Regions from separate parts of the Homo sapiens genome. Here region 2 is linked to region 1. The links come from fine-mapping of genetic effects on gene expression. A gene starts in region 1. The other region holds a variant in brackets. All regions are shown on one strand. Distances are from middle to middle. Region 1 holds the start of ZC3H18 (zinc finger CCCH-type containing 18). Region 2 overlaps ZC3H18 (zinc finger CCCH-type containing 18).

Region 1 (4,382 bases):
GGGCGCCTGTAGTCCCAGCTACTCGGGAGGCTGAGGCAGGAGAATCGCTTGAACCCAGGGGGCGGAGGTGGCAGGGAGCCGAGATGGCGCTACTGCACTCCAGCCTGGGCGACAGAGTGAGACTCTGTCTCAAAAAAAAAAAAAAAGAAAGAAAGAAAGAAAAGAAATGTGCCCACCCTGTCTGCTTCTGCACTTGCCTTTGTCATGCAACCTCACAGATGGTCTTCACCCGTTTATTTATATCTGTGTATACACACTGGAGGTTCATGCGTTAGCATTTTTAACAACCGCGATGTTGCAAATGTTGTACCAGATTACTATTACAACAGTACAATCATCTGCTCATCAACATCTGGGTGGTTTTCTGGTTTTTTCCTTTGTTCTTTTTTTTTCTTGAGACGGAGTCTCGCTCTGTTGCCCAGGCTGGAGTGCAGTGGCATGATCTGGGCTCACTGCAAACTCCGCCTCCCGGGTTCATGCCATTCTCCTGCCTCAGCCTCCCGAGTAGCTGGGACTACAGGCGCCCGCCACCACGCCCGGCTAATTTTTTGTATTTTTAGTAGAGACGGGGTTTCACTGTGTTAGCCAGCATGGTCTCGATCTCCTGACCTCGCGATCTGCCCGCCTCGACCTCCCAAAGTGCTGGGATTACAGGCATGAGCCACCGTGCCCGGCTCCTTTGTTCTTTTAGTTATGACTACTAACAGACCTGCTATGTCCTTGTTCATGTCTCATGCCCACGGGCAGATGACACCCCAGTCCGGTGGCCCACCTGTACCACTGGGCATCAGAATCCCCTGAGAGCTCTTCATGGACCACAGGGCCCTGGGACCTCACTCCCAGTCACTGGTGCGGCCACTCTGGGGCAGAGCCCAGGAAGGCACATTGCTAACAACCCCTAGTGATACTGAGGCTGCTTGCCCGGGTCCCACTTGGAGAACCCTGTCGAGGGTGGCACTGCTGGTCACAGGGCACTTCTTTTAACTAACATTGTTTTCCAAAGAGGCTGTGACCAACAGAGTTTACTGTTCATGAAACTCAGATCGCAGACAGGCACGTGTCTGTCACAGCCGGTGCCGGCCGCTCCTTTCCATGGACAGTAACGTCCATGCAGGCTTATGTTCATCAGCTGAGAAAAGGGCACTTGCTGGGTGGGACCTTGTCTTATCGACACATAGAGTCTGCAGAAGGTGCCAACTGGTGTCGCAGGGCTGCTCCTGACACGACCCAAAATCACCAGGGTTGAATTCACATTCCTCTTACGTAACCATAACAAGTTGCTGGGACTACAGGCACGCACCACGGTGCCCTGTTAATTTTTTTGTAGAGACAGGGGTCTTGCTTTGTTGCCCAGGCTGGTCTCAAACTCCTGGAGGAGGTGGTCCTCCCACCTTGGACTCCCAAAGTGCTAGGATTACAGGTGTGAGCCACAGTGCCAGGCCTGTGGTACCTCTTCCAAGGACACTAATCCTATCAGATCAGGACCCCACCCTTATAATCTCATTTAACCTTAATTACTTCTCTAAAGGCCCTTTCTGCAAACACAGTCACATTGGGGATTAAGGCTTCACATACAAATGTTAGGGGGACAGAACTCGGTCCATAGCATGGAGTCGCACAGGTTTTGTCCTTTTGCGATTGGCTTGCTTTACTTAGTATGTTTCCAAGGTTCACCCATGTTGTGGCATGGGTCTGAACTTCACTCTTCTTGATGACTGACTCACACTCCACTGCATGGACAGCCAGCATTTTGTCTGTTCCTCAGTTTGTGGACATCTCGCCCCCTTGTTTCCACCTTGGGGATATGGAGGAAGATGGGATGAGCGAAGCCCTGTGATCCCCAGGACCAGCCACGTCGTTGGCAAGGGTCAGCGCAGGATGAAACCGCCGGCCCCTGGTCTCCGGCCGGGCCCTCCGTCTCTAGAGCAGCTCGCACCGCTGCAGCCCCTGGACGCCCCGGGCTGTGGACGCGCCCGTGGGACACCGCGCTGAGCAGGACACGCGACAGGTCCCCTCACTGGCGCTGCTCGCGTTGAACCGCGCGGGGAGCCAGGCAGCCCACGGGAAAGGTAAGAATTGTTAGGCTTTTAATCTAAAGTCGATACCTCAAAAAATAATTCCGGAGGTAAGCATTTAATATCAACATTCAATAAAGCAGGAAGTATCAGCCCGACGAAGACCGCCTTAAGTTTTCCACTTTGATGAACTCGATCATCCCCGGGGATGAAGAACCCGCCGGCCCAGCCGGAGCCCCGTCACGTGACCCGGCGGCCGCGGGGAGCTCTGTGCGCAGGCGCGGATCCGCACGCCCGCCGCCTGAGAAGCGAACTCCCCGTGGCGCCTGCGCTGTAGCGGGGGTTCGGCTGGCTCGCGCGGGTCCGGGCGCGCGCTGCGGGGGCGGAACCGCGCGGAGGCCGGAAGGAAGCTGGAGGGGGCGGGGCGAGGGAGGGAAGCCCGCCGGCCGTAGGACTACCGTCGCGGCCTGATGACGTCGCACAATGGCCGGCCCCCGCGGGTAGTGGAGCCCGTTTGTTCCGCCCGTGTCGAGCCTGGAGCCAGAACCTGTGAAGAGCGGAAGGGCCAAGGGACGTCTTCTCCACGCCGCTCCGACTCCAGGGGAGCCGTGGCCTCCTCTCCGCCCTAGCGCTGAGGTTAGCTGGGGCCGGGAGGGCGGCGGGAGGCCGGGCCGGCGGCGGCGGGAGGAGGAGGCCGCCGAGGCGGCGGCGGCGGCCGCGGGAGGGAGGCCCGGGAGCCCGGCGCGCCTCCGGCCGTGCGGACCCACCGGCCGAAGCGTGGCCCTCGGGCCCAGGGAAGGGGACCTTGAGACAGGCACCACCCCGAGTTCCGTCCGTAAGCCGGCCCCGCGGTCCTGGGGCGCCCTGGGCGCCCGAGCTCCTCGCGCGCTGCCTCCGCGCCCCGCGGCAGAGTTTATTTTCCTGAAGCTGTCATTTCTCTTCCGGGCCACTCGCGTGGCACATGTGTGCCGCCGGCTAAGGGGCGGTGAGAGGCGCCCAGATTCACCTCCAGAGTAGGTCATCCCGGGCTGCTGCTGGGCTCTTCGGAGAACTTTGAGCTCTTTATGAACCTCCTGGAACTTGCTCCGCAGCTTCAAAGTGTGCACAGGTTGGGCGCAGTGATTGCCCCAAGACGCGCGCCGGTCTCTTAGGAGTATGTAACTTCCTTGCCCCTTGGATTAGGAGATCAGAGGTGCTGGGTCCTTTATATAGACCAACTGCAGCTATAATGCTGGAAGAACTGAAACTTAACAGCCTTACTCCTGCCAAACATTTTTCCTGAATACTTTATGACAACTGAGTTTGCCGGGTAGAGTGGCCGTTTTAAATGAGCTTTGTTCGAACAACGCTAACTCATTTGCAAGAGTAGGTCATTCTTCAGACCCATTTGGGAAAATGGAAGAAGAGAGTGTTTGGCATCTGAAGTACCGTTTGGGGTGTAGCAAGGTGCTCATCATGTCTCCTGTTAGACTCACCTCCAGCCTGTTGTCTGTAGAGTAGTCCTTTCCCGTTCAGTAGTTGGGATTATCCGGGTGAGGTTTGACCTCGGCTGAATCCCGCTTCCCAGCTTTGGGAGGAGAGTCTTTTCCTGATAATTTTACTATCTAAGGGCAGTATGGAGCCCAGCCAGCCCTGGAACCAGTCAAATGTGTCCCAAAGCCGGAAACTCCTCTCCCGTTGTAGGTGGGACATGCTGAAATATTGTAAGAAAGCTTTGTGGAGTCACTCCAGAAAGCAAACAGGTAAGTTAACCTATGGCCTACATCGTGTTTACAGAGATTTGTATTTTGTCACAGCTACAGAGCATCTCAAGGTGAGTACCTCTTTATCAAGGAGTTTAGTGGTCACGCTTGGTCACTTTGCACGTGGGGTCTGTCACCAACCTTGATAACGTTCATTTAGATATTTTAAGTCCATGAGGTTATGAGTCAGAATTTTAACCAGATGTACCAGAACTTAGGCATTCAAATAGGTACTGCTCTGTTGAAAGTAATTGTCCCAAAATGTGCTTGTATTTCATCGGTGCTTCTTTGCCAGAATCTCTTTAGAACTCCTGTTGTGGTAGTAAAAATGTAGTCATATGGGAAAATCAGTCTTATTCAATAGTCACCCTCCAGGTTTGACCAAAAGTTTACTTACGTGGTTGGTAGCTCACCTTATCAGGTGAGACTCTGACTTGCAGCACTTTATCAAAGTGACTAGCTTGAGAGGAGGAAGATTTGCCACCACTAAGAATACCAGAAGACTTCTTTAGGCTTGGAAGGTCATTCGCAATGAGAAGGTCCCCAAACGCTCTGCATTTCAGCAGTGCCGTTGGAGTCTGTGCATCCTCCCAGAGGGGCTGCTCGGAAGGGAGGTAGCACCTGC
Region 2 (4,382 bases), 36 kb after region 1:
AGACCAGGCTGGGCAACACGGTGAAACCCCATCTCTACTAAAATACAGAAGAAATTAGCAGGGCGTGGCAGCATGCACCTGTAATCCCAGCTACTTGGGAGGCTGAGGCAGGAGAATTGCTCGAACCTGGGAGGCGGAGGTTGCCAGTGAGCCAAGATCATGCCCCTGCACTCCAGCCTGGGCAACAGAGCGAGACTCCGTCTCTTTTTTTTTTTTTTTTTGAGACGGAGTCTGGCTCTGTCGCCCAGCGTGGAGTGCAGTGGCGCAATCTGGGCTCACTGCAAGCTCTGCCTCCTGGGTTCACGCCATTCTTCTGCCTCAGCTTACCAAGTAGCTGGGACTACAGGTGCCTGCCACCATGCCCGGCTAATTTTTTTTTTTTTTTTTGTATTTTTAGTAGAGATGGGGTTTCACCATGTTAGCCAGGTTGGTCTCGATCTCCTGACCTTGTGATCCACCGGCCTTGGCCTCCCAAAGTGCTGGGATTACAGGCGTGAGCCACCGTGCCCAGCCCCATTTCTTAAAATAATAATAATAATAATACTTTGCTAGACAGACGCACTCTGATTCGCAGCTTTAAATATTCCGTTTCTACCACCTCAAGCACTTTGTTCAGGTACCATCTGACTTATAAAACCTCACATATTGGCTGGATACAGTAGCTAGTAATGTCTATAATCCTAGTGTTTTGGGAGGTCAAGGTTGGCAGATCAGTTGAGCTCGGGAGTTGAAGACCAGTCTGGACAACATGGCAAAACCCCATCTCTACAAAATATACAAAAATTAGTTGGGCATGGTGGCACGCACCTGTAGTCCCAGCTACTCAAGAGTCTGAGGTGGGAGAATCTCTTGAGCCCGAGAGGTGGAGGTTGCAGCAAGTGAGATCGTGCCACTGCACTCCAGCCTGGGTGACTGAGTGAGACTCTTTCTCCAAAAAAAAAAAAAAAAGTTCTCACATATGTAAGACATTAAGAAATGAAATGACGGCCGGGCACAGTGGCTCACGCCTGTAATCCCAGCACTCTGGGAGGCTGAGGCAGGCAGATCACAGGGTCAGGAGATTGAGACCGTTCTGGCTAACATGGTGAAACCCCATCTCTACTAAAAATACAAAAAATTAGCCAGGCGTGGTGGCGGACACCTGTAGTCCCAGCTACTCGGGAGGCTGAGGCAGGAGAATGGCGTGAACCCAGGAGGCGGAGCTTACAGTGAGCCGAGATGGCGCCACTGCACTCCAGCCTGGGCGACAGAGCAAGACTCCATCTCAAAGAAAAAAAAAGAAATGTCATCTCTGCATAGGGCTCCTGGGGATGCTGTGCCCAGAATATTCTACAAGTCTAATAGGGACATGTGACCCAAAAGACACAAGGGCCTCTAGTGCGCACAGGACGTCACCTGTGAGAAATGCGGTCATCAGTAGTAGCCCCACCGTGAACAGAGTTTCTGATTAAATCAGAGTCAGGCTGTCAGGCCATGGCCAGGGCCATGGACTGGGCCCCTGCCAACTCCCCATACGCCCCCAGCACAGAGAGTAGTGCAGTGCCGGTGTATTAGAGGCGGAGGTGCAGGCTGCTGTTCTTTGGAGTAGGATGTCAGGCTGGGATACAGAGGAAACAGAACAGTAATTTTCAAAAAGCACACTCCCTTTCCTCAGGTAACAGGTCTACCAGATGCTGGTCCAGCACCTCCTTTGTCCCAGATGCTTAACTGAGAGAGCACAAGTGGCTTTTACCTGGGATTTGCTGGTGCCCTGTGGGGAAGCCCCCTGAGTGAGCAGGGAGGGAGGGTTGGGCTACCTGGAGAGTAAGACAGGGCCTGCTCCACATGGGTAAGCCCACAGTC[C/G]CACAGACTCAGGGCAGATGGATGTATGGGTGCCCAGGCATTGCCTGTGGCCTCTGCATGCCTTTGGGGACCTCCTCCCCTGCCTGCACTTTCAGTGGCCAGCGTTGCAACAGGAACGTGGGCAACAGGCAGGTGGGCACCAGGTCGACCATGCTGGGTTGGGGTGAGGGCAAGAGGCAGCAGGGGGCTGCGTCGCTGCTCCCTTTGTGAGCTGCCTGGGACCCTCCTTTTCACCTTGGGTCTCTGCAGCAAGCAGGGACACGTGAGCATCTGACTCCCACCCTTTGCAGAGCACAGCCTCCCTCCACCTGGGTTGAGGTCAGCACGATTTCAACCTGAATTGTGCAAATGCAAGTTGCATTTCATTGTGTAATATTGCATAACCCTTAGATTAAAAGTGAGTAGTGTTAGACATTTTAGAACTTTTTCCTAGTACTTTTTGAGATCCAGTTTCCTTGTCACTGAAATGAAATGGTTAAACAAAGTGATCTCGAAGCTCCAAACTTCTGTCTTACACGTTCTCTAATTGCTCGACTTTTCACCTGCCATGCCTCTCCCTGGGCAAGGCTGTGGGCAGAAACCACCTGCCCCTGATGGGCATGTCCAATGGTTCCCCTTAGCCAGGACCTCGGGTTCTCCTCTCCAGCGAGGAGTAGGTCCACTCCACGTGCCAGTGCTGAGTCTGACGCTGCCCAGACCTCTGGGGACGCGGGGCCTCTGGAGTGCAGATTCCACGTGTGTGCACAGGACACTGTTGGTGTTGGCTGGTTAAGTGGTGACTGCAGAACGAGGTGCGAGCCTCCCAGTTGCTGCGAGCCAGCTTTGCCCAACCTTGCTTCACCACAGAACCCTTTTCTCAAAAGGCCCATTAACATTTTGGGTTCCCTAAAACAGTTGGGGAAGAGTTTGTGCATACCATGATACTGCCCAGTAGCATTTATTTTTAAATTGAATTAAATACCTTCCAAATTCATTTCAAGAGTGTTTCAGAATTTTTCAGGATGGTGCTGAGGAGTCCGTTGTTGGCATGGTTGCAGTTCCTGGTGGCGTGTTGTGTTGACACGTTCTCTAGAACGCATGCTGCGGAGCAGATGGTTCCGAGGCAGCCACGCTGAGGAAATGCTGTGTGCCTCATTCCTATCCGCTCATCCACGACTTCCAGAAAGCCTGCAGGAAAGAGGCCTTTTCATTTTGCTTAAGTACAGTTTCCCAAAAACAAATTTGCCGGCACAGTCCTCTTGTCAGAGAACACACGCCTCACACATTTTGGGAAAGGCTTTTCTACCCTATTGGGCTTACGCAATCAGCCTCAGCCCACCGAGTAGTTGGGGGCCACAGCCATGCACCACCAGACCTGGCTGCTGATGTGTTTTTTGTAGAGACGGTGTCTCGCGTGCTGTCCAGGCTTCCTCTTCGTTTTTATGTAGCCTGATGTCATATTGCCACAGGTCTCTACAAATGTTTCCTGAGTGTTATAATTCAGTGTGATTTGAGTAGTGTGCACATTAGATTGAACGGTGTCCGACTGATGGGAACGGACTGAAGCTGTGTCCTTTGGGAGAGCCAGTTCTAGGCCATGTGGAGAGTTGAGGAGGCCTCGAGGGTGTTCGTAGCCACCCATCGCTGGAGCCACCTCAAGCCATGATGCCTCAGGTTCCCACCCAGTCTACCCGAAGCAGAGGGTTGGCTTGTGGCTGAGACATACCCTGGAGGGGCGTCCAGGGACCTCCTATTGCTAGTGTACACTTTGTTTCCTCTGCTCCACAGGAAAGGAGATGCAGAGTTGTGGGCCCCGCCAGGAGTTTAGAGCAGGCCCCCCCCAACCCTGTGCGCAGTGGGGAAGAGAGCCTGACCTTCCCAGCAGCTGGACAGTCGTCCCCTCCCTGTTCAATGAAGAATCCCCTCTGTCCCTGAGATGCCACCTCTCTGGGCGTGCCTGGGTCTGCCTCTGGACCTCCTGCCTCCTCCTTCTGGCCGCCGGTTTTCATGTGCTGCGATGGCACTGGCTTAATTATACAGGCTTTTTAGGATGTTTAATGTCTCAGAGGGCGTGTCTGGCGTGTCTTTTCATTTCCAGGGTTTTCTTGGCTGTTCTTGGGGTGCGATTTTTCATGTGAACTTGGGTGTCAGCTTGTCTGGCTCCTTAAAGAAGCTCATTGGTGTTTTTGCTGGGATTGTGTTAAATTTATCAGTCAGTGTAGGAAGGACTGACTTGTGGGCGATTCCGAGCTGCGCTCTCCCAGTGCAAGAGGCGTCTCCCCATTATTCATGCACGCTTTGTGTCAGGTTTCAAAACCCCCATTTATTCATGCACACTTTGTATCAGGCGTCTCCCCATTTATTCACACGCTTCATGTCTCTCAGGCGTCTCCCCATTTATTCACAGGCTTCATGTCACGTGTCTCCCCATTTATTCACACACGCTTCATGTCTCTCAGGCGTCTCCCCATTTATTCACACACACTTCATGTCTCTCAGGCATCTCCCCATTTATTCACACACACTTCATGTCTCTCAGGCATCTCCCCATTCACATGCTT

Evidence for each region. PIP is the estimated chance that this variant, and not a neighbour inherited with it, causes the effect. A credible set is the group of variants that fine-mapping cannot tell apart.
Region 2: its variant is the best candidate, but not a certain one, in a credible set for the expression of ZC3H18 in whole blood (INTERVAL, PIP 0.79).

The regions. Positions count from the first base shown.
Region 1 is chr16:88,567,916-88,572,297 of GRCh38, forward strand. It overlaps ZC3H18 (zinc finger CCCH-type containing 18), which reads left to right and starts at 2,488. Exons shown (of 18, transcript NM_144604.4): 1 at 2,488-2,651. RefSeq lists enhancers at 1,669-1,778, 1,889-1,938, 3,029-3,078 and silencers at 2,179-2,508, 2,689-2,758.
Region 2 is chr16:88,603,420-88,607,801 of GRCh38, forward strand. All of the region lies in intron 6 of ZC3H18 (zinc finger CCCH-type containing 18), which reads left to right. Among named protein-coding and RNA genes, the nearest start is that of IL17C, 33 kb to the right of the region's middle. RefSeq lists an enhancer at 3,732-4,232. The variant C/G (reference allele first, on the strand shown) is at 1,843.